6 linked regions of the Homo sapiens genome follow. The protein of the gene in region 1 purifies or fractionates together with the protein of each later gene. This does not show direct contact. Each region holds a gene or a part of one and is shown in the gene's direction. Other genes may lie near its edges. The genes, in order: PPP1R8, VPS4B, FARSB, FAM98B, FCSK and DGUOK.

The links.
Region 2: the proteins of PPP1R8 (region 1) and VPS4B fractionate together in Homo sapiens (co-fractionation; one large-scale study listed by BioGRID). This does not show direct contact.
Region 3: the proteins of PPP1R8 (region 1) and FARSB fractionate together in Homo sapiens (co-fractionation; one large-scale study listed by BioGRID). This does not show direct contact.
Region 4: the proteins of PPP1R8 (region 1) and FAM98B fractionate together in Homo sapiens (co-fractionation; one large-scale study listed by BioGRID). This does not show direct contact.
Region 5: the proteins of PPP1R8 (region 1) and FCSK fractionate together in Homo sapiens (co-fractionation; one large-scale study listed by BioGRID). This does not show direct contact.
Region 6: the proteins of PPP1R8 (region 1) and DGUOK fractionate together in Homo sapiens (co-fractionation; one large-scale study listed by BioGRID). This does not show direct contact.

What each region holds. Positions count from the first base shown.
Region 1 is NC_000001.11:27,837,252-27,840,810, forward strand, and holds part of PPP1R8 (nuclear inhibitor of protein phosphatase 1), read left to right. Parts: intron 1-1,447; coding exon 1,448-1,601; intron 1,602-3,559. UniProt on the Homo sapiens protein: Inhibitor subunit of the major nuclear protein phosphatase-1 (PP-1). It has RNA-binding activity but does not cleave RNA and may target PP-1 to RNA-associated substrates. May also be involved in pre-mRNA splicing.
Region 2 is NC_000018.10:63,412,468-63,416,026, reverse strand, and holds part of VPS4B (vacuolar protein sorting-associated protein 4B), read left to right. Parts: intron 1-3,559.
Region 3 is NC_000002.12:222,653,250-222,657,506, reverse strand, and holds the start of FARSB (phenylalanine--tRNA ligase beta subunit), read left to right. Parts: upstream 1-1,414; 5' UTR 1,415-1,433; coding exon 1,434-1,491; intron 1,492-4,257.
Region 4 is NC_000015.10:38,452,831-38,456,930, forward strand, and holds the start of FAM98B (protein FAM98B), read left to right. Parts: upstream 1-1,296; 5' UTR 1,297-1,331; coding exon 1,332-1,402; intron 1,403-4,100. UniProt on the Homo sapiens protein: Positively stimulates PRMT1-induced protein arginine dimethylated arginine methylation.
Region 5 is NC_000016.10:70,453,294-70,457,409, forward strand, and holds the start of FCSK (L-fucose kinase), read left to right. Parts: upstream 1-1,301; 5' UTR 1,302-1,337; intron 1,338-4,116.
Region 6 is NC_000002.12:73,925,725-73,929,717, forward strand, and holds the start of DGUOK (deoxyguanosine kinase, mitochondrial isoform a precursor), read left to right. Parts: upstream 1-1,155; 5' UTR 1,156-1,186; coding exon 1,187-1,328; intron 1,329-3,993.

The sequences.
Region 1 (3,559 bases):
AAACCCTGTCTCTTCTAAAAATACAAAAAATTAGCTGGGCGTGGTGGCACACGCCTGTAGTCCCAGCTACTCGGGAGGCTGAGGCAGGAGAATGGTGTGAACCCGGGAGGCAGAGCTTGTAGTGAGCCGAGATCACGCCACTGCACTCCAGCCTGGGTGACAGAGACTCGTCTCAAAAAAAAAAAAGAGTTGTTACTGTCTTGAGGGCAGGCCACTTATATCTAATAGAATTAAGAAAAGTTGGGCCGGGCGCAGCGGTTGGCTCATGCTTGTAATCCCAGCACTTTGGGAGGCTGAGGAGGGCAGATCACGAGGTCAGGAGAACGAAACCATCCTGGCTAACACGGTGAAACCCCTACTAAAAATACAAAAAATTAGCTGGGCGTGGTGGCGGGCGCCTGTAATCCCAGCTATTTGGGAGGCTGAGACAGGAGAATCTCTTGAACCCGGGAGGCGGAGGTTGCAGTGAGCCGAGATCGCACCACTGCACTCCAGACTGGGCGACAGAGCGAGACTTAGTCTCAAAAAAAAAAAAAAGAAGTTGGCCAGCCATGGTGGCTCACACCTGTAATCCCAGCACTTTAGGAGGCTGAGGTGGGCAGATCATGAGGTCAGGAGTTCAAGACCAACCTGGCCAGTATGATGAAACCCTGTCTTTACTAAAAAATACAAAAAGTAGGCCAGGCTCGGTGGCTCACGCCTGTAATCCCAGCACTTTGGGAGGCCGAGATGGGCGGATCATAAGGTCGGGAGTTCGAGACCAGCCTGGCCAACATGGTAAAACCCCGTCTCTACTAAAGATACAAAAAATTAGCCGGGCATGGTGGCGCGTGCCTGTAATCCCAGCTACTTGGGAGGCTGAGGCAGGAGAATTGCTTGAACGCAGGAGTTGGAGGTTGCAGTGAGCCAAGATTGCACCATTGCACTCCAACCTGGGTGACAGGGTGGGACTCCATCTCAAAAAAAAAAAAAAAAAAAATTAGCTGAACGTGGTGGTGCACGCCTGTAGTCCCAGCTCCTTGGGAGGCTGAGGCAGGAGAATTGTTTGAACCCAGGAGGCAGAGGTTACAGTGAGCCAAGATCATGCAACTGTACTCCAGCCTGGGCAACAGAGTGAGACTCCATCTCAGAAACAAAAAAGAGAAAGAAAAGTTATTTTCATACCAACACTAGACAAACACTACATTGAGGAGATGAATTACCATCCATTCTCCAAAAAATGTTATTTTAGTAAATTATTCTGAGTACTTTATGTTGAAGAATAATGGGAGATATTTTTTTCTCCTTGGAAAGGATTTATTTTTCTTTTTTTGATGCAAGGAGATGGAGTTTTTACTCAATCTAATGGAAAGGAATTTTATCTACTCAAGATTCTCTATTTGGGAGAGTTTTTGGTAAATGCTGTTGAAACAAGATTTAAGTAATATTTAATTTAATATTTATTTAGAAACTGATTATTGATGAGAAGAAGTATTACTTATTTGGGAGAAACCCTGATTTGTGTGACTTTACCATTGACCACCAGTCTTGCTCTCGGGTCCATGCTGCACTTGTCTACCACAAGCATCTGAAGAGAGTTTTCCTGATAGATCTCAACAGTAGTAAGTAACTCCCTCCCAATTCACATGTTACCTTTAGGCAATATGAAAATACTCTTTGGGTTCTTTAGTTTGGAAATTACGTTTTATGGAAAAAGTTAATGTTTGGTTTTTAAATCCACCCTTCTCTATTTCTGTGATTTTTCTATTTTCCTGAGATAATTGCTAACTGACTGTGGAGAGAAGAGGGGTTTGGGGAGCACTGTCCTGGAGGAATCAATAAGCAAACATAAGCTGGATGTGGGGGCTCACATCTGTAGCTACTCAGGAAGCTGAGGCGGGAGGATCACTTGAGCCCAGGAGTTCAAGACTGCAGTGAGCTATGATCACACCACTGCACTCCAGTCCGGGTGACAGAACAAGACCCCATCTCTTAAAAACAAACAACCAAAAAAGAGCTGGGTGCAGTGGCTCACTCCTGTAATCCCAGCACTTTGGGAGGCCGAGGTGGGCGAATCATTTGAGGCCAGGAGTTTGAGACCAGCCTGGCCAATATGGTGAAACCTCGCCTCTACCAAAAATACAAAAATTAGCTGGGTGTGGCGGCGGGTGCCTGTAATTCCAGCTTCTTGGGAGGCTGAGGCAGGAGAACCGCTTGAACCCAGGAGTGGAAGGATTCAGTGAGCTGAGATGGTGCCACTGCACTCTAGCCTGGGCAACACAGCAAGATTCTGTCTCAAAAAAATAAAGAAAAGGAAAAAGGCACCCAGGAACTAGGGACCATGTGTGTTCAAGTGTTTATAGGACCATAATAAATTGTGATTCTGTTTCAGCAGAAGCCATGATTAGCTCCATTGATGTAATAGAGCAGCAACATAGGGCATTTTAAGAATGATTGTCTTGAGGAAAATTTCATTATTCTGGTTCTTTATCCCATCTCTGTTTTGCTTTGACTGTGAATAATACCAGTTTTAATTCCATAAGCAAGGCCAGGCATGGTGACTCACACCTGTAATCCCAGCACTTTGGGAGGCCGATGTCAGTGAATCTCTCAAGCCCAGGAGTTCAAGACCAGCATGAGCAATGTAATGAGACCCGCGTCTCTACAAAAAAATACAAAAAGTAGCCCTGTATTGTGGAGTGCGCTATGGTCTCAGCTGCTTGGGAGGCTTAAGTGGGAGGATCGTTTGAGCCCAGGAGGTGGAGGTTGCAGCGAGCCATTATCGCATGACTGTACTCCAGTCTGGGTGACGAAGCAAGCCCTACCTCAAAAAAATAAAAATAAAATACTCCATAAGTATTAATTAATTGAAGTATCCATAAGCATACACCAATTAATAAGAGTTTAAACTTCGCCTAAGATAATCCACAGAAATGCAATTGAGATTTAACTGCATGGGGCCCTGAAGTTTGTTCATTTTGCCCGTGTGTGAATACAGTGTAAAATGTAAAGGGTCCTGCTTCCTGGGCATATCATGTTGGACTCCACCACTCTCCTACTACCATACGCAGAAACATACACTCACACATCACCCTAATCTGCTTATATAAGGGTCTTGGAGAGCTTTGTCTCGCAAATACTTATCTTTTCTCTCCCATTTTATAACATGCAGAATGCCAACAGGGGAAAATATTCAGAATCTATAGTAGGATTTTGGCTTGCTTTGGCATTGATATTGCACCTGTTTCAGCCAAGCTCTTTCTTGTCCTGGGGAAAACCTAAGCATAACTGCCACCAGGCCAGCAATTTCTATATTCTTTTGACTTGGAGCTGGAGAGGGAAAACTACAGTGATGTCCAGCTCCTGCTTTGGGAGGCGTGGCTTCTGCTGGGTTGGAGCCATTCTTATTTGACCCAGAATGGAGCCAAGCCTGTATGGCAGCAGAGAACGGTCAGTGGTATTTGTTATCTGGGGGAACAACAGGTCTGAGGATATAAGAAACCCACCGAGGAGATTCAAGGCTCAGTGAGGGAGTTTCCTTCTCACTGTAACACATGATGGATGTGGTGGACCCAGTGCC
Region 2 (3,559 bases), on another chromosome or scaffold:
AAGAGATGATTGGTGGACTGGACAAGCAGATTAAGGACATCACAGAAGTGATCGAGCAGCCTGTTAAGCATTCCAAGCTCTTTGAAGCACTGGGTATCACACAACCCAGGGTGGTACTGCTGTACGGACCTCTAGGCACTGGGAAGACACTGTTTGCCTAGGCTGTGGCTCACCATACAGACTGTACCTTTGTTCATATCCCTGGCTCTGAATTTGTATAGAAATTCATCGGGGAAGGGCCAAGAATGGTGAGGGAGCTGTTTGTCATGGCATGAGGACCTGCCATCTGTCATCAGCTCCATCAGCTCCTCGCAGCTGGAGGGGGGTTCTGGAGGGGACAGTGAAGTGCTGCACATCGTGCTGGAACTGCTCAACCAACTGGACAGCTTTGAGGCCCCCAAGAAGATCAAGGTTATCATGGACCACTGCTTCACTCAGGGCACATCAACAGAAAAATTGAATTCCAGCTGGACATTTTGAAGATCCATTCTCTGAAAAGGAACCTGACCCAGGGGATCAACCAGAGAAAAATTGCCAAGCTTATGCCAGGAGCATCAGGGGCTGAAGTGAAAGTCATATACAGAGAAAGCAGCATATATGCCCTGAGGGAACGGCGAGTGCATGTCACCCAGGAGGACTTTGAGATAGCAGTAGCCAGCGTCATGCAGAAGGATAGAGAGTAAAACATGTCCATCAAGAAACTATGGAAGTGCGGGGATGTCCTTTGTATGGATCCCTCCGGTAAAGCTTTCTGGAATGAAAAAATAAAATAATTAGCTCTCCAGAATTAACCATAGAAGACATGGTTAATTTTATTTCAAATGAAAAATGCTAACAGACATGGTTAATTTTATTTCAGATGAAAAATGTTAACAGAAATAAGGTTGAAATGGTATTCATCAGCAGAAAAAAAACAGATGCATATCCTCTTAATTCATCGTCTTCGATTAAAGGTTTAACGTGTGCCACCCAGTACAGTGGCTGCATGTGGCTATTTTAATTACATAAACTCACTCCTCAGTCACACTAGCCACATTTCAAGTGCTCAGAAGCCATATACAGACATTCTCATCATCAGGGAAAGGCTGGTTTAATTAGCACTATGTTTGGAGCTAGATGCTTAAATAATACCCACTGCAGTATAAGAGATTTAACTTAATAAAAATCAGTGTGGTGCCTCAGTGAGGCCTGACTGAATGAGAGGAACAAGTGGCTGAAGAGGTGAGTGGCACAGCATTTCAAAATCACCTGAGAAGAAAATTATAGTTAGGATAAGAAAGAGCTTATTTCTAGGCCAGGCACGGTGGCTCACGCCTGTTATCCCAGCACTTTGGGAGGCTGAGGCAGGTGTATCACCTGAGGTCAGGAGTTTGAGACCAGCCTGGCCAACATGGTGAAATCCCATCTCTACTAAAAATACAAAAATTAGCCAGGCATGGTGGTGGGTGCCTGTAATCCCAGCCACTGGGGAGGCTGAGGCAGGAGAATCACATGAACCTGGGAGGCAGAGATTGCAGTGAGCCAAGATGGCGCCATTGCACTCCAGTCTGGGCGACAAGAGTGAGACTCCATCTCAAAAGAAAAAAGAAAAAGGATTTATTTCTGCTATGTGGCTTAACCACTGAGGCTTTGAGATGCATTTTTTTTTTTCTTTTTTGAGACAGAGTCTTGCTCTGTCACCCAGGCTAGAGTGCAGTGGCATGATCTCGGCTCACTGCAACCTCTGTCTCCCGGATTCAAGCGATTCTCCTGACTCAGCCTCCCAAGTAGCTGGGATTACAGGCGCCTGGCTAATATTTTTTGTATTTTTAGAGATGGGGTTTCATTATATTGGCCAGGCTGGTCTCGAACTCCTGACCTCAAGTGATCCGCCCTCCTCGGCCTCCCATACTGCTGGGATTACAGGCGTGAGCCACTGTGCTTGGCCTCACTCTGTCACCCAGGCTGGAGTGCAGTGGCACAATCTTGGCTGTGGTGCATTTTTATATGACCAGTCTGACCTAACCACCACTTGACTGTGTGACTCCATGTTTTATGTTCATATACTAGCTGATAAAACTTGAAAATTTAGCTTTGAATTTAGGCTACTTGACCTGTGAGATACGTAACTATTACATTTTATCAATTCTGAAGTAAACCATTTATTTTTCTTCCCTGCTACAATAGAGGAAGCATGGTCTTCCAGCGGGAGACCTGTTCCTCCCATTTACAGATCTCAGCCCAGTTATATCCAATCCATGCTCAACTGCCCCAAAATGTAATATTCTTACACATAATTGGTTTTTGCATTGTTTGAATGATTTTTTGCTTATGTTATATACTTACTTTTTAATATCTCTAACAACTGTCAATTTTCATTTTTTTTTACTGGCACCTATTTCTGTTGAATAGTTTTACTACCTAAATTAACCCAGTTGGAATGTTTTAATAAGTCATGTTTGCCCTTTATTTGTATGTATCTGTGCATAATTTTTTTTTTTTTTTTTTTGAGGTGGAGTCTCACTCTGTTGCCCAGGCTGGAGTGCAGTGGCATGATCTTGGCTCACTGCAACCACCGCCTCCCGGGTTCAAGCAATTCTCCTGCCTCAGTCTCCCAAGTAGCTGGGACTATAGGCGCATGCCGCTACGCCTGGTCAATTTTTTGTGTTTTAGTAGAGACGGGGTTTCACTGTGTTGCCCACGCTGGTCGCAAACTCCTGAGCTCAGGAGAATTTTAGTTTGAGATAATTGTAGATTCACACGCAGTTGTAAGAAATACTGAGAATCCAGCATTCCCTTTATCCAGTTGTCTGCAGTGGCAGCATCTTGTAGAACTGGGACAATATCACAACCAGGATATTGATATTGATACATTCCACCACTCTTACTCATATTTTCCCAGTTTTACTTGTCCTTATGTGTTTTTATGTGTGTGGGTGTGGTTGTTTGTGCAGTTTTATCACATGTAGATATGTGTTACATTTTGAGAGTTCTTTATGTATTCTCGATACTAGTTCTTTGTTAGATATGTTTTGCAAATATTTCTCCCAGTCTATAGATTGTCCTTTCATCCTTTTAACAAAATCTTCCAGAGAGCAAAAGTTTTGTCATAAGATCCAGTTACCTTTTTTTTTCTTTTATATAGTATGCTTTTGATGTCAAATCTAAGAACTCTGCGCATCCCCAGATCCTAAGTTTTCCATGTTTTTTCTAAAAGTTTTAGCTGGGTGCGGTGGTGTGGACTTGTGATCCTGCTATTTGGGGAGGCTGATGCAGGATGATCACCTGAGCCCAGGAGTTTGAGGCTAGCTTGGTCGACATAGTGAGATGGAGCCCCGTCTCAACAAATAAATAAGAATCAAAGTTTTGTAGTTTTACATTTAATTCTATGATCCATTTTTGAGTTAATTTTTGTAGGAAGTATTAAGTTTAAGTCAGAATTCTTTTAGGTGTATGCTTATGGATGTCTAGTTCCTCTAGCACCACTTCTTAAAAAGCCTGACTCGGTGCCATTGACTGGCTTTTTGCATCATTTTCAAAAATCTCTTGGCTTTATTAGTATGGATTTATTTCTGGGACT
Region 3 (4,257 bases), on another chromosome or scaffold:
TGAAGGACTTTGGAAGAAGCCCTCACTCACTGTACAGTAGAAAGGATTAGGGCAAGGCTCCCCCTGGAACTGCCAGTTTGTGCCTTAGTTTCATTACCTGTAAAACAGGGATAATGGTACCTATCTTGATGTATTAGTTTCCCTTGGCTGCTGAAACAAATTACCACGAACTTGCTGACTTAAACCATAAATTTATGCTCTCACAGTTCTGGAGGCCAGAAACCCAAAATCAGTTTCACTGGGCCCAAATCAGCATGCATTATAGGGCTGCCCCATGGGCTGGGCGTGAATCTGTCCTTGTCTCTGTTTATTTCAGGGATACATGTGCAGGATGTGAAGGTTTGTTACATAGGTAAATGTATGCCATGGTGGTTTGCTGCCCAGATCATCCCATCACCTAAGTATTAAGCCCAGCATCTATTAGCTATTCTTGATGCTCCCCGCTCCTCCACCCCCTCACCCCCAGTGTGTGCTTGTCTCTTTGTTTCTGGTGGCTGCTGGCATCCTTGGGTTGTGGCTGCCATACTCCAATCTCTGCCACCGTGGCTAAATCGTCTCTCTCAACCTCCCTTTTATGATTTGATGAGGATACTGTGATTCCATTTAGTGTTCGTCTTTCGAATCCAGGATAATCTTCATCTCAAAATCCTTAACTTAACCTGCAAAGACGCTGTTTCCATATAAAGTTACATTTAGAGGTTGCAGGGATTAGGGTCTGATATTATTGGGGGCCGTTATTCAGCCTATTACACTCAGGGTTGTTTTAAGGAGGAAATTTAATGCTGGCAGAGGGCTGAGCACAGCCCACTGACAGCAGAGAGCACTGAGCAAATAGACAAAAAAAGAGGTCTCTTACAATGCCTCCCTTATAGGGCTGCCGTAAAGTTCAAACAAAGCACAGGTATATCACTTATACGAGTAGAGGAGAGATTAAAGAATGAAGTAAAAACTGAGGTCTGTTAACAGCCCCTCTCCCGCCGCCAGGATTTGCACACCTTTCTCTGCAGGAAGCCTTGAACCCTCTCCACTCGCATTTCCACCACCTCCAGGCAAGATCTCCCACGTGGAGGCCCCACCCCCTCCCTGACGCGCCCCACTCTCGCCCCGCCCACCTGGTGGGCGTCCCCGGCCGTTAGCGCCCTGGAAGCATCCGGGACTTCAGGGTCAGTACATTACAATGCCTGACAAATCCTAGCCAGTTCTATCAAATTATATCTTTCTTACAGGCTTTTAAGCTATTAGTCTCATAAAGATACATTTAATCAGCGAGGTAATGGCATGATGAGTGTTTTTAGGTTAAAAAGAGAACAGGAACTGTTGCCAGCAGAATGGCGATATTCAAGACAACACGCACAAGAAGAGGCGGGTCCTACGCGCTTCGCTAGGGAAGCCCGGGTCAGCTCGCTGCGCAGGCGCAGTGAGTTCGACACACCATGCCGACTGTCAGCGTGAAGCGTGATCTGCTCTTCCAAGCCCTGGGCCGCACCTACAGTGAGTGGCGGCCCTATACGTTGGGCCCTACGCCTCTTCTCGGAGGCAGGGCCTCCCTCCAAAAGGGCAATGTGGCGACATTCATGCCTTCCTGAAGGTTTTGGCTCCGGGAGGCCGGGGTTTACGCGGGAAGGCCGATGATGGTGGCGGTCCGGCTGGGCTGTGGTAGCCTCGGAACCGGCATCGCAGCGGTGCCACTGCTTGTGCCCGGCTTGCCGTGTCATTCATTCAGCGATCTGCCATCGAGTGCCTACAGCGTGCCTGGCACCGACATCCAAGCCAGGGGATAGAACAGGAAGGAAACCCGGGGTTGCATCCCGAGCGTAGCCAGTTAATTGCAATAGCAGCGCTGTGGGAACTCAGTTTATAAGGGGGTAGGAGGAGAGATTTGTGCAGCGGGGTGGAGAACGGCATTCCACCTGTCTTCGTTTTATTAATGTTTCCTGAGCGCCTGTTATGTGTCAGGCACTGTTCTAAGAGCTTAGGACTAGAGCTGTGCACACGACACGTCAGGTCCACGTTCTGTCTGATGGAGGCAGACAATTAACCAGCACGTTAATAAAATGATTTCGGATAATGTTAAATGCCATCAAGGAAAGAAAAGGTGTTGTGCCAAGAACAACTTTAGATAGGGTGGTAACATTTGATCTGAGACCTGAATGGGGAGTATTAAATGGGTGTAGACTTCATTCTACATTTCATCTTTTAATCAGTTCTAAAAACACAACCATTGAAAAAAAGGAGGGAGATATTAAATGCAGTTATCAGTTACCTCACAGCCGTAGCAGCTGCCCCACCCTATTTTTTTTTTTATTTTTATTTTTTGAGACGGAGTCTGCACTCCCAGGCTGGAGTGCAGTGGCGCGATCTCGGCTGACAGCAACCTCCGTCTCCCTGTTCAAGCAATTTTCTGCCTCAGCCTCCCGAGTAGCTGGGATTACAGGCGTCCGCCATCGCGCCCGAGTAATTTTTTTGTATTTTTAGAGAGACCAGGTTTCACCATCTTGGCCAGGCTGGTCTTAAACTCCTGACCTCGTGATCCACCTGCCGCGGCCTCCCAAAATGCTGGGATTACAGGCGTGAGCCACCGCGCCCGGCCCCCACCCCATAATTTTTAGCTTGTATAAAGGCTGGACCAACTGGTTCGTGAGAGCTGTTTTTTTTGTTTTTAGGGCTCAGTGTGTTAACAAAGGCCTAATTGGTTTAATGACAGCCACCGCTTCCCAGAATAAGATTACTGTTACAGTGAAAATAAAGCTGGCTTTTAAGAATCTTTCCTAAGTGTGTACTTTTAGATAGTACCTATTCTCTATGTGATATTCTTCGTAAGTTCTGCCATAAGTCCCTGAAAGTAAAGGAAATACAAGGGTATTGTATTACTCTTACCCTTTGTACTTGGCTCTAATCGCCTAATCGCTTTATTTTATAATGAGCTTATTTATATTTCTTACCTGCCCTTCTAAACCATATTCTCACTAATGGGATGTGGTACAGGTTAATAATTCCTTATCCAAAATGCTTGAGACCAGAAGCGTCTTGGATTTTGGATTTTGGGATATTTGCATATACATAATGAGATATTTTGGGGGTGGGACCAAGTCTAAACATGAAATTGATTTATATTTCACATATACCTTATATGCATAGCCTGAAGTTAATTTTATGGAATACTTTAAATAATTTTTTTTTGCATGAAACAAGGTTTTGACTGTGTTTTTGACAAGTCACATGGAGTCAGGTGTGGAATTTTCCACTTGTGACATCATGTCTGCACTTTAAGGTTTTGGGTTTTGGAGCATGTCAGATTTCAGATTTTTGGATTGGGAATGCTCAGTCTGTATACCTGAATTGCCTAAGATGGTAGGTGGCAAATATTTGTTCAAAACATCTATAATCAGTTCCCATCCCAGTCTCCATTTCTAGGGAGGTAAGAAATAATCCAGATTTTTAAAAATGGTGAGATTTATAACCTATTTACTATCATCTGATGTTTTAACATATTCTGTCTGCTTCCCTTTTTTTTTCATATTGTCAGTGATCAATTAAGATTGATTTTTTCACAAATATGTGTTTGTTAGCTACTGAATCTTTTAAGGTCCAGGTACATGGCTGATGCTTGTAATCACAGCACTTTGGGAGGACGAGGTGGGCAGATTGCTTGAGCTCAGGAGTTGGAGACCAGACTGGGCAACACAGCAAAACCCTGTCTCTACAAAAAGTAGCTGGGTGTGGTGGTGTATACGTGTAGTCCCAGCTACTTGGGAGGCTGTGGCCGGAGGATCGCTTAAACCAAGGCGGTCAAGGCTGTAGTGAGCGGTGATCAAGCCACTGCACTCCAGCCCTGGCCACAAAGTGAGACCCTGTCTCAGAAAAAAAAAAAAAAAATTCAGTCAGAAGGATTGATGTTATTTATTGAGATGTACTTTCAAGAGGTCAGAAATGATTCTCCTCATTAGTTTACCTTTATTGTGTTCTTGCTTGAAACTGTTAACTGGGTTGAGGTCAGAATTGAAAAAGCATGTTCAGCAAACATGTGGTTTCCAAGTAGTATGGATACATCTTGTTTCTTACCTTTTTTTTTTTTCCCCAGTCTTCCTCTTTTTTTCTTGTTTTCAGATAATGTCTCATTCACACTTTTAAAATCCACATTCTCTCTCTTTAGTCCCTCCAAGGGTTGCTTTCTATTTGAAATTCCATTGTTTCTACCAGTCCCCACCTTCCTTTTTACCACCTCTTTGCTTAGCAAGGATATTTCTCTTTCAAGCT
Region 4 (4,100 bases), on another chromosome or scaffold:
GCCACTGCACTCTAGCCTGGGCGACAGTGCGAGACTGAAAAAAAAAAAAAAAGTGTGTGGCACCTCCCTGCCTCCCTGCACCCTCTCTCTTCCTCTTACTCCGGCCACGTGATAGCTGCACTCCCCCTTCCCCTTCTGCCACAACTGTCCATTTCCTGAGGCCTCCCCAGGAGTGGAGCAGATGCCAGCATCATGCTTCGTGTACAGCCTGTGGAACCATGAGCCAATTAAACCCCTTTTCTTTATAAATTACCCAGTCTCAGGTATATCTTTATAGCAATATGAGAGTGGACTACTACAGCTTACCTTTGAGTGTTTTACACATTTATGGGTATGCTTTTTGTTTGTAACCATAATTAGGAAGGCGAGAGCATTACTGGTCTTTATTGGACTGGGGCTACGAATGCTATGTAGTCTGCAATGGAAGGGACAGGTCCATACAAGGGATCAATAGTTATACTTCATGCAGGATTTCCAACAGTTCTGCTAGAGTATTCATGTAGGTGACATGCCTGCTAATAATGATCTAACCTTATACTCTTAGTACCTTTTACATATGAACCCTAAAATACATTTTTTAAATCCTTTAGATAAGAGATTGAATTCTTCATGGATAGTACACAGAGGGTATATTATGTTTTGTTTGTTTGGAACTTTACAGAGAATTCGCCACAATTTTGGAAAACCACATCAACTACCTTACTTTGCTGGCGGTATGTTTGTTGCTTATACAACTAATGCTTTGTCAGCAATGAAGCACATCATCTGAATATGCAGTTGAGGGGATTCTACATAGATAGATGCAAGCATCTGATCACTTCATTGGTCTTCCGCATTTCATAAGGAGAAAAATATTACCTTGTTATAAATTACTTCATTTTTTCCTTCAAGTTGAAGCATCGTCGTGTATATTGATTTAAAAATTATATGTGTAGGCATGTGATATTAGTTACTAATTTTAGCTGAAGATAATTATAATTTTATTTCAGATTTCTGTTATTAAAAAGGTCTGGAATCGGATAGGTTGAGATCAACCCGATACCACGATATTTGCTAAAATTTATTTGAACACACAGAAAAGTCCCAACACAGAGAACTCTTTATTACTATTATTTATTATTTCTACTATTCTTTTAAAAAATTATTATCGTTACACGCAGCGGTTTTAGGCACTATGAAGTGTTTATTGCCTCGGGGCTGGGAACCTTTGCGCCCTTCTTCAGCTGTGCTCTCAGGCAGTTACCGGCCAGACCCGGACCGGAACCTTGGCGCGGTGACGCTAGTTTCCGGCGGGCTACTTAGAGCGCCGAACAGCTCTGGGCCAAAGGACCATGAGAGGGCCGGAGCCGGGTCCCCAACCGACGATGGAGGGAGACGTGCTGGACACACTGGAGGCGCTGGGGTGAGTGCTTTTGGAGACGCCTTTTCCCTGAAAACGCAACCTCTCCTTGGCCTGGCTGCTTAGCCTACTTCCCTTGGGCCTCTGTGGGCCTGGGCGGCCATGTGTAGGCCTCCTTCCCTGCCTCGATCCCTCCGGCGCCGACGGAGTTAAGCGGGAGGCGGGAGAGAAATCTATTTGGGGGGTGGAGCAGGGCCGGAGAGCTGGGGTTCGTGGCCCCCTCTTCGAAACTTCTTGCCTCGAAACTCTGTTGCAGGAATCCGCCGGGTGGCGCGGAGCGGCCCTTCTAGCACCGGTTTTCTGGGCTAGCTCGCGCCCGCAGGTGATATTTGTGTTGACGTAGTTCTGGCGCCCGGAGGGAGGTGCTGGAACCTGAGCTGCTGTTGAGGACTGTTGTCTCCTACAATGTACAACTTGTGGCTTACTTGGGGCTCTGGAGCGAATGGCTTTTACTTTGACCGGAGAAAGTGTTGTAGTTCATTGCGAGTTCGTTCTTTCAACCATTTCGTCCGTTCGTCAACGTGTATATTAGCTTGTATATTAATTTACACATATTTACGTTTGTAAATTTCCCCTAGGCAAGGGAAAAGGATAGTTTTTCAGATTACTCTTGGCTTACATAGTCGCGCAGGCTGCAAGTCTGCTGCCGGCTGGTATTTACAGTGCAGAATGGTAAGTGCTGTGAGAACTCAGGGTGGAGGTGGGAGTAATGTTAATACTTAACAAGTGTGGTGGTTCGTAATCTCCCCCTCAACCTCATCCTGTTTTTTTCCACACAGCTCTTGTCCCCATCCCAAATTATCATGTCCTGCCCATTCATTTGTCTCTTGAACTCTGCTTCTCCCTCGTTTTATTCCTCCTCCTCCCCAAGTCAGCTCCTGGAAAACTGATGCTTTGCATATTTTATTCACCGATGTTTTCCCAGCAACACACTAGAACGGAGTCTTTTACAGTAAATAGTGGTTGAATGAATGAGTAAATGAATGAAGAAAAGCTTAGAGAAGAGTCCACAGCAGTAAGCATAGGACCAGATAGTTGAGTCATACAGTGCACATTAAATAAAGAGCTTGGAGCCATCTGCACATTTGTTTGCCCTGCTACGTGCTGCTGTTTCTTGATAGGGGAAGCTGTGCCTTTGCAGCGTTATTATGAAGCTTGAACCAATCCCACACCCCACTTTATCTTCTCTAAAACTGCATTTGCCCCTCTATCAATTGTTTCTTTAGTTGAACCCTGATAATACCTACTTTGCAGTGACCCAGGGTTACGGAGTCTTGCACTTAGTAGATCGTGAATACATATTTGTCAAACGAAAGAACAGTGCCATTGATTATTTAGGGGGCATTTTTACTTCTGTGAAGTCCCTTGGAAGTTCTCACTTAACTTGGTTAAGAAGGAACCAAAACAAGAACTGAAAATACTTAGTAGAATTATTTAGGCTCCAAACAGTTTGAGCTCCCAAGTACTTCAGGTAAGAATATTGGGAACTCATAAATGGTTTATGAAAAAGGAAAAGGCAGTGCTTTTCTTCTTTCTTCATTTCTTGAACTTATTGTTCATATTATAAGTGTTTTAGAAAATTCATTGCTATAATCTTGATTTTTATCAAGGAAAATTAGTCAGATTATTCAACATGGAAAGTAAAACAGTTTACACACTCCAAAATTAGTTTTTCCTGGAATAACTATGAGGGCAACATTTTGAAGTTTGAATTCTCCTATGATAATACGATGTGAAAAAAGTAGTTATTTACAATATGTGTTGTAATGGAACACTGTGTTTTCAAATATCCATGTAGATAGTGAATAATGCATTTTCTGTTGTAAGGTATTGAGGATATCAGCAAAGGTACTTCAGTTTGTCATGTAAAATAAATTAATGGGAGGCATTTGAAGGGAAAAATCTATGTGAAAGGACAATTTAGTGATACAGGTGAAAACAGGATAGGCTAGGAGTCAGTCAGTTTTCTCATCTGTGAAAAGAGAGGGCTGGAGCAGATGATTTTAGAAGTCTCTTTCAGTTCTGATAGTCTCTGATTTTGTGGAATAGTAGATCTCAACACTGGAAGTACATCAGAGTCGTGTGGAACTTGTGAAAAACTGTTCCAGTCTAGTATATACCATAGACTGACCGAATCATAATCTTCAGAGGTACAGTACAGACCTGCATATTTTTAAAAAGATTCACAGACTCAGTTGAGAAACACTACTATGGAGAGAAGTTTCCTTTAAATATTTATTGAACACACTGTATATTGGACCTCGTTCTGAGGAGTCAGTGGTGAGCAAAATAGACTTGGTTCCTACCCTTGTGGAGTTTATAATCTAGTGGAGAAACAGACATGATCACAAAAACAATTATAAACTATAATAAATGTGTCAAAGGAAAAGAACAGGGTGATGTAACAGGAGGATCTAAGAAGTCTTAGGGGTTAGTGATAGATTCCTGAGGAAGTGACATTTGAGTTGAAATAAGAAGGGTGAATAGAAATTAAGTAGTTAAGGTTGGATGGATGAAAAAGGGGGACAAAGATATCCTTACAGTGAGAAGAAAATGTGAAGACTTTGAAATGTGAAGGAGCTTGCTGTATTAGAAGAACTGGAAGGAGGCTAATGTGGTTGGAAGGCAGAGTGTGAGGGGCAGAGTGGTGGGAAATTGGATTCAAGAGTTAGGTGAAAATCAGGGCATGCAGCCCCTTTTA
Region 5 (4,116 bases), on another chromosome or scaffold:
CCCAAGCTGCTGGGACTACAGGTGCGCGCCACCACGCTCAGCTAATTTTTGTATTTTTAGTAGACGGGGTTTCACCATATTGGCCAGGCTGGTCTTCAACTCCCGACCTCATGATCCACCCGCCTCGGCCTCACCAAAGGGCTGGGACTACAGGTGCGAGCCACCGTGCCTGGCCTGAAAGAGGAAATTTTTAAAAGGCATGGGTAGGTAAGAGGCAAATGGCTGCATTCTTCTGAGTCTTTGATAAGCCTTTCACATGTTAGAGGGGGATAGAGGACTAGTCACTTATGCATTCATCTAGCTCAGTGAATATGCATTTTTACATAAGAAAAAATAAACATAGGGCAGAGGAAGCAATGAGATATGCATTTGTCTCAGGTGAGCTGAGAGATGACTTTCAGTGCTGTCAAAGCCCAGCACCTGTGAAGATAAGCTATAAATTTACATTGTCACTGAAATTCCACACAACTGTTTTAGGGTACAGATTTGGGGGCACACAAGGAATTTCCTAGTGGGCAAGTTGTGAGGGCCAGGCCATATCTAGCTTTTTTATCTTTGTAGTTATCTTGTTTAAGAATAAAATGGGAGGTAGGTTTCCCTGATGCAGTTCTCAGCTTGACTTTTCCCTTTGACTTAGTGACTTTGGGGTCCTGAGATTTATTTTCCTTTCACATAGTAACCTAGAGAGAGACACTCAGAGTATTTCCAATTGTCATCTATGACAATCAATGCTGCCATTCACAACTTTCCCAAAAGGTCCGCAGATCCCCTCCCCATTACGGAGTTGGAAAGTTTCTTCCCAAAGGATCCACGTGATGAAACCAGCGCAAACCTTTCCAACTGCAAATCGAATGGCAGCTGCTTCCGCTTGGGCAAAGCGTGATTTTTTTTTTTCCTCCATCAGTGGATTTTTCTCCAGAGGAAAGCGGAAGCTCCTGGTGCCGTCCAGAAGGTGTTAAAAAAAAAAAAAAAAAAAAACCCAAACGAGAAAACAAACAAAAAAGCTACACATTAACCTATTAACCTGGATCCCGGAGTCCCAGAAAACGGGCCTCTGTCTTTAAGGCGCTTCGGTCCTCTGGGAGTTGTAGTTTCGTGGGTCCTGGAGCGGCCCCCTTCCCATCTCCCTTCTGGATTGCAGCCCCGCTGCCCTTCAGGAAAGCGCTGCCCCGGCCACCCACGCTGGCCTATGCGGTGGCTCCGACCGTGTTTTTTGCCGGACGGGGGCTCGGCCTTGGGGGGGCGCGGAGGTGAAACTACACTTCCCGGAGTGCACCGCGAGGGTCGCGCAGCCTCGCGTTAAAGAGCCCGCTCCGCCGAGCGCCGGGCGACGGCAGGTACGTCAGTCCGCGAGGGTCGCCGCAGCGCCCCTTGCGCCCCTTGCGCCCCTTGCGCCCCCTCAGCTTTCCGGTGCACCCTCCCTGACTGGGAGCACCGAGTCGACCCGCGGGCCGCCCGGGTCCTGACAGGGAAGAGTCCCCGGGAGCTCTGCGGTGCCCCGGGAGCCCACAGGTGTTTCTACGCTCCCGCGTCCATTTGGCCTGGGTCTTCCAAGGGGAGCCCCGCGACCCGGCTGGTGCGGCCGGACCTGCTGGCAGCTGGGACCGGGAGGGATGCGGGCCTCAGAGGATCCTCACCCTGAGGCAGGTGGGGCCCTGGATGCCGGCGCTGCTCTGATTTTACTTTGAGGCCGCTTCTCCTCTCTCAGTTTACCCGGCCAGGGCTCAGTATTATGCACAAATCTCAATGATGTGCTCTTGGGTAATTTACAAAACGATTTTACTCCCAAGTAACTTCTTTCGGTCTGTTATTTAGAAGGCAGCAAGTCAGAGTCCTCCGTGAGCCTTTTTTTCCTCTTTAAAGTTCTAAAATGTGCAGTCCCTGACCCACCTGTCTTCAAAAGGTTCATATGAAGAGTTCTTAGTACTTTATTCTATCTCTGGCTCCCCAACCCTATCCCAGTCTTGGACAGCGTGGGGCTGAGGACACTAAAAAATATTTCAACTTGATCTCAGCAGATGAGGCTGTATTGAAAGTGGGTAGAGGCTGGGCGCCAAGGCTCATGCCTGTAATCCCAGCTACTTGGGAGGCTGAGGCGAGGGAATCGCTTGAACTCAGGAGATGGAGGTTGCAGTGAGCCAAGATCACGCCACTGCACTCCACCCTGGGCGACAGAGCGAGACTACGTCTCAAAAACAAAACAAAACAAACCAACAACAACAACAACAAAAGAACCTTAGGGCCTTAGGGCACACTTTCTCAGGACCTCTTGAGATTGTGTAACTCCAGCAAACTATTAATTAAAAAAAAAAAAAAGGCCGGGCGAGGTGGCTCACGCCTGTAATCCCAGCACTGTGGGAGGCGGAAGCAGGTAGATCACCTATGGTCAGGAGTTTGAGACCAGCGTGGCCAACATGGCAAAACCCCCTCTCTACTAATAATACAAAAATTAGCTGGGCGTGGTGGTGCACGTCTGTAATCCCAGCTACTTGGGAGGCTGAGGCAGGAGAATCACTTTAACCTGGGAGGCGGAGATTGCAGTGAGCCGAGATCGCGCCATTGCACTCCAGCCTGACGACAGAGGGAGACTGTCTCAAAAAAAAAAAAAGCCAGGCATGGTGGCTTACACCTGTAATCCCAACACTTAGGAAGGCCAAGGCGGGAGGATTACTTGAGTCCGGGAGTTGTAGGTCAGCCTGGGCAACAAAGGGAGGCCCCATCTCAACAAAAAATAAAAAACTAGCAGGACTCATGCATAGTCCCAGCTACTTGGGAGGCTGGGATGGGAGGATCGCTGGAGCCCGGGAGTTTGAGGCTGCAGTGAGCTGTGATCACATCACTGCGTTCCGCCCTCTGGTGACAGAGCCGGACCCTGTTTCTCAAAAACAAAACAAAACAAAACAAAAGCCTAGCCTGCCTGTGCTATTAAAGCAATGGCAAAAGCCAAAATTACTTTTGCACCAACCTAATAGCTATGTTTCTGCTTTTTAAACTACAGTTTTCTTGTCTAGAGCTTCAGTGAGATAAGAACCAATTCTTAGGACTGTTGGGTGGGTCATATGAAGTGACACTGATGTGCCTTTGCCATAGTGCCTGAAAAAGCACTCCATATGTATTAGCTACTTGTATCATTTTACCTTTTTTGTTAATCTCTCAGGGGATGTCCCTCAGCCTTGCTTGATTCCCGAGGCCTTCCCTGATTTTTTTCTTCTTCAGGACAGTCTTTAACTCAGAGAATGTTTGAGAGCTTCCAGTCCTTCCTCCTTCAGGGACAGGTTAAACTCTCCTGCTTCCTTGCCTGGCTGGAAGGATTATCATTCATTGAGCCACTGGTGTGTGCCACATACTTTACATTGTATTTCATGCTGAAAACAGTCCTGGGAGGTTGATGTCTTTGGCCTTAAATTTCAGATTAGGAAACTGAGGCTTAGAGAGGTTAAGTAACTGCTGGGCATGGTGGCTCACGCCTGTAATCCCAGCACTTTGGGAGGCCGAGGCAGGCGGATCCCAAGGTCAGGAGTTTGAGACCAGCCTGGCCAGCATGGTGAAACCCCGTCTCTACTAAAAATACAAAAAATTATCCAGGCATGGTGGTGCGCGCCTGTAGTCCCAGTTACTCGGGAGGCTGAGGCAGGAGAATGGCTTGAACCTGGGAGGCGGAGGTTGCAGTGAGCCAAGATTGCGCCACTGCACTCCAGCCTGGGTGACAGAGCGAGACTCCATCTTAAAAAAAAAAATAGATTAAGTAACTTGCTCAGGATCCTACAGGAAGCAGGAAGAGGTAGAGATGGGGACAGAGCCTTTTGGGACTGATACGCAACCCAGGACTGTTCCTCTGCCCCTGTCATTAGTAAGGGATACTCTCCCCACTCTGGCCATGACCTGTCACCTGCCCATGTCTCTCTATCACTATGCTGAGATGAAGACTGGGCTCAGAACTTCTGGGCCATTGGACTCTCTGGGGCATTTCTTTTTTTTCTTGAGACAGAGTCGCTCTGTTGCCCAGGCTAGAGTGCAGTGGCGTGATCTTGGCTCACTGCAGCCTCCGTCTCCTGGGTTCAAGTGATTCTCCTGCCTCAGCCTCCTGAGTAGCTGGGACTACAAGCGCGCATCACT
Region 6 (3,993 bases), on another chromosome or scaffold:
CCATTAACGCCCCACCCTGGTTATCCTTAAAAAATTCGATTAAAAAAAAAGTTCTTAATATATAAACATGACCTCAGCCATCCTATATATACATCAACATAAGAAAAAGGTCCCGTGCTTTTTATGGGAACAGCTTCAAGACAGGTATCCCAGCCCCCGGCCCCTCCCCAGCCCCCTTGCAATCAGATCCTTGTCTTCTAAAACCTGCCACACCTAAGAGCGCTGCCTGAAGGCCGGTTTGGCCTGTTGACTCCTGGTTTTGACTGTTGGTGATTTAAGCGATTGGAACTGGAAGCACCATTTGACAACATTTTGTAAATCATTACTTCTGAGGTTGTTATGACGACGGGGTGTGGCAGTCCGGCTTCACCTGTGGCAGCAGCTTAGGTCCCTGCCCTCCTGCAGAGCACACTTCACCGACAGCAGGACTCAGGTTTTATACAAGTCTCTACTCGCCATTGCTTACGTCCAAGAACCCAGCCTACCAGGTTTAAACAATTTCCAGTCACATACCTGAGCCACCACCACCTTATCCTGAAGGGATTTTTGGGTATAATGCAAATCGATTGACCGAACATTTATTTACTTATTCAAGACACAAACTAAGAGATGGGGTGTAACTGATTATCTAATTTGTTAATTTAGTCAATAATATGCCAGCATTGTGCAGGGGAATTACAGGGAATAGGAAAAAGTTAAATTTGTGTAAATCATCAGATTGAGTCATTTTCCTACTTTAAAACTTCCATTTTCTTCCGATATTAAAATAAAAACCAGACAACAAGCACCTGGGGGGGGGGAAATCCCCTCTTAAAATTACAATTTCTATTTTTAATTTTGTCTTCAGTTATAAAATTTATTTTAAAGTTATACAAAAATGAAGTGGTTGGATTGTGGAATTACGTCTTTTAAAATGTTATTTGTCCAATGAACAAAAACCACTCGCACCGCAACTCCTTTTACTATCAAATTCTGCACCGTTGCAAAACTTCCTTCACTCAACGCTTCTTTACAAACATCGCGATAGCGGAGCGGTCTCTTGGGCGCACCCCGCCGCATGTTCAACCCCACCCACTTCCTGTCTGACGATCTCCTTACGTCAACGGTGCGCTGGAGCGAGTGAGCAGCGATACCTAGGGCGGAAGTGCTCTCGGCGGAAGTGATCGCTGTGTGAATCGTGGGTGGGATGGCCGCGGGCCGCCTCTTTCTAAGTCGGCTTCGAGCACCCTTCAGTTCCATGGCCAAGAGCCCACTCGAGGGCGTTTCCTCCTCCAGAGGCCTGCACGCGGGGCGCGGGCCCCGAAGGCTCTCCATCGAAGGCAACATTGGTAAGGGCCGGAAAGCGGCTGCCAAGCCTTGGCCTCCGCCACGCAGGCGACAGAGGCTGGGAAAGGAGCTGGGCCCGGAATGGCCTGCGTCTGATGCGGCCGGCCTCTTTTTCTGGGCTGCGAGGAGAGCCTTTCCCCTCGCAAAGTGCACTGTGTATCTTTGCCTCCTTGTTTTTAGGATATCGGGCCTCAGTACCCGCCCACAGGAACATATTTGTTGGGGCATAAAAGCCACGCAGTTAGTGGATAGGACAAGAATTGTATTAGCTGTTTGTAATAGATCGAAATTGAAGCGACAAGCGGGTGCAGTTTATTTGTTCTCCTAGATAGGGTTGCCATATTTAGCAGAAATTAAAAATAATATCCAGTTAAAATAGAATTTAAGATAACGAATAATTTTTAGTGTGTGTCCAATGCAATATTTGGGACATCCTTACAGCAAAACAACAACGAAATCACTCATTGAAAGTTCAAATTTAACTGTGTCCTGTATTTTATCTGGCAACCCTATTCGAAGAGAGTTCCTAAATTTCAGTCGTTCAAATACCACATTCACAATTTTTGCCCTGTGCCTGTGCTAGTTGCATAATAATTTCTTAAGGCTTTTCTTAGAAGAACCTCACTTTTTAAACTTAAAAACATGTATTAAATTAAAAATTATTTTGTTAAAAGAGTGAGATCCAGTATCTTGAATAAAAAGTAGTCAGAAAGCAAAATGAAGGCAAAGCATTTCGATTTAATATTAATAAATTCTGACTTGATACTTTTATCTACCAAGTCACTGAGCCCCTAAAAGGGGCTTAGCAAGTGTTGAGTACTGAAGACGTAGCAGCAAACTGAGAATTTCTTTTTTTATTCATTCAACAAATCACCTTTTGAGCCACTTCCATATGCCAGCACTGTTCTTGGCCTGGAGAATACAGCTGTGAATAGAACAAATAAAAATCTCTGCTCTCATGGAACTCAAGTAGGGAGAGATGGACAATAAACAACATAAATTAAGCAAGGTGAACAATATGTTAGAGAGTAATAAGTATGATGGAGAAAAATTAGGGATGAAGAATTGAGGGAAGTTTTTATTTTATTTTATTTGAGATGGAGTTTTGCTCTTGTTACCCAGGCTGGAGTGCAATGACACGATCTCGACTCACTGCAACCTCTGCCTCCCTGGTTCAAGCGATTCTCCTGCCTCAGCCTCCCGAATAGCTGGGATTAGGGGCACCCGCCACCACACCCAGTTAATTTTTGTTTTGTTAGTAGAGACAGGGTTTCACCATGTTGGCCAGGCTGGTCTCAAACTCCTAACCTCAGGTGATCCGCCTGCCTCGGCCTCCCAAAGTGCTGGGATTATAGGCGTTAGCCACTGCACCTGGCCGAAGTTGTCATTTTAAATAAAATAAGCAAGGCCTCACTGAGAAGGTGACATCTGAGCAAAAAACTGAAGATGAGGGAGCAAATCACGTGGATACCTGGGAGAAGAATCTTCTAGGCAGAGTGAAGAGCAATTGGAAAGGCCCTGAGGTGGAAAGTGTGTTCGGGGAATAGGAGGGAAATCGTTGTGACTGAAGTCGAGTGAGCAAGGATGGGAGGGAAATTAGGGCAAAAGCCCAAGGGGTGGCCAGATTTTATAGGCCTTATCATGGGTTTTTAATCTTACCGAGATGGGTAGCCATTGGAAGGTTTGAGGAGTCAAGTGACAGTTTTACTTAGATTATAAAAAGATCACTGTGGCTGATAACATTGAAAGTGAAGAGTGTTAAGTGGTATTGCAATAATTATAGTATTGTGAAAAGTGAAAGTGGTGAGACGTGATTGGATTCTAGTTATACGTTAACAAAAATTGAGTTACATTTTAAGTAAAATTTAACAGTGGAAGTGGTGAGAAATGATTGGGTTCTAGTTATATTTTAAGATAGGGCCAATTGGATTTGGTGACAGGTTGAATGCAGAGTGTAAGGTAAAGAGAGGGGCCAATGATGACTCCAATTATTTTGACTTGAGTACTTGAAAGATAGACTCCTGATTTTCTTTTATTTCCTCCTCTCCTTCTTCCTCCCCTCCCCTCGCTTCCCCTCCTTTGGTGTGGTCTTGCCCTGTTGCCAGGCTAGAATACAGTGATGCAATTGCATCTCACTGCAGCCTGCCTCCCAGGCTCAAGCCATCCTCCCACCTTAGCCTCTTGAGTAGCTGGATCCACAGGTGTTTGCCACTATGCGTGGCTAATTTTGTATATTTTTTGTAGAGACAGGGTCTCACTATATTTTCCAGGCTGGTCTTGATCTCCTGGGCTCAATTGATCCTCCTGCCTTGGCTTCCCAAAGTGCTGGGATTACAGAAGTGAGCCTTGGTTTTAAGCATGTTAGGTTTTTACATGCCTATTAATATCCAAGTAGAGGTGTTGAATAGGTAATTGGATATGTAAGTTCAGAATTAGGGTCTCCCCGGACTGGAGCTGTAAATGTAGGTGGTATTTAATGCCAGAGACTATGTGTTGATGGAAAGGACTGAGCCCTGAGCATGCAAATATTATGAAACTGGGGAGATGGGAAGGAATAAGCAGAGACTGAGAAGGAATGCCTACTGAGGTAGGAGAAAAAAACAAAAGAGAATGATATCCTGGAAGCCAAGTGAAGAAGGTATTCAGTGGGAGGGAATGATCAGCTGT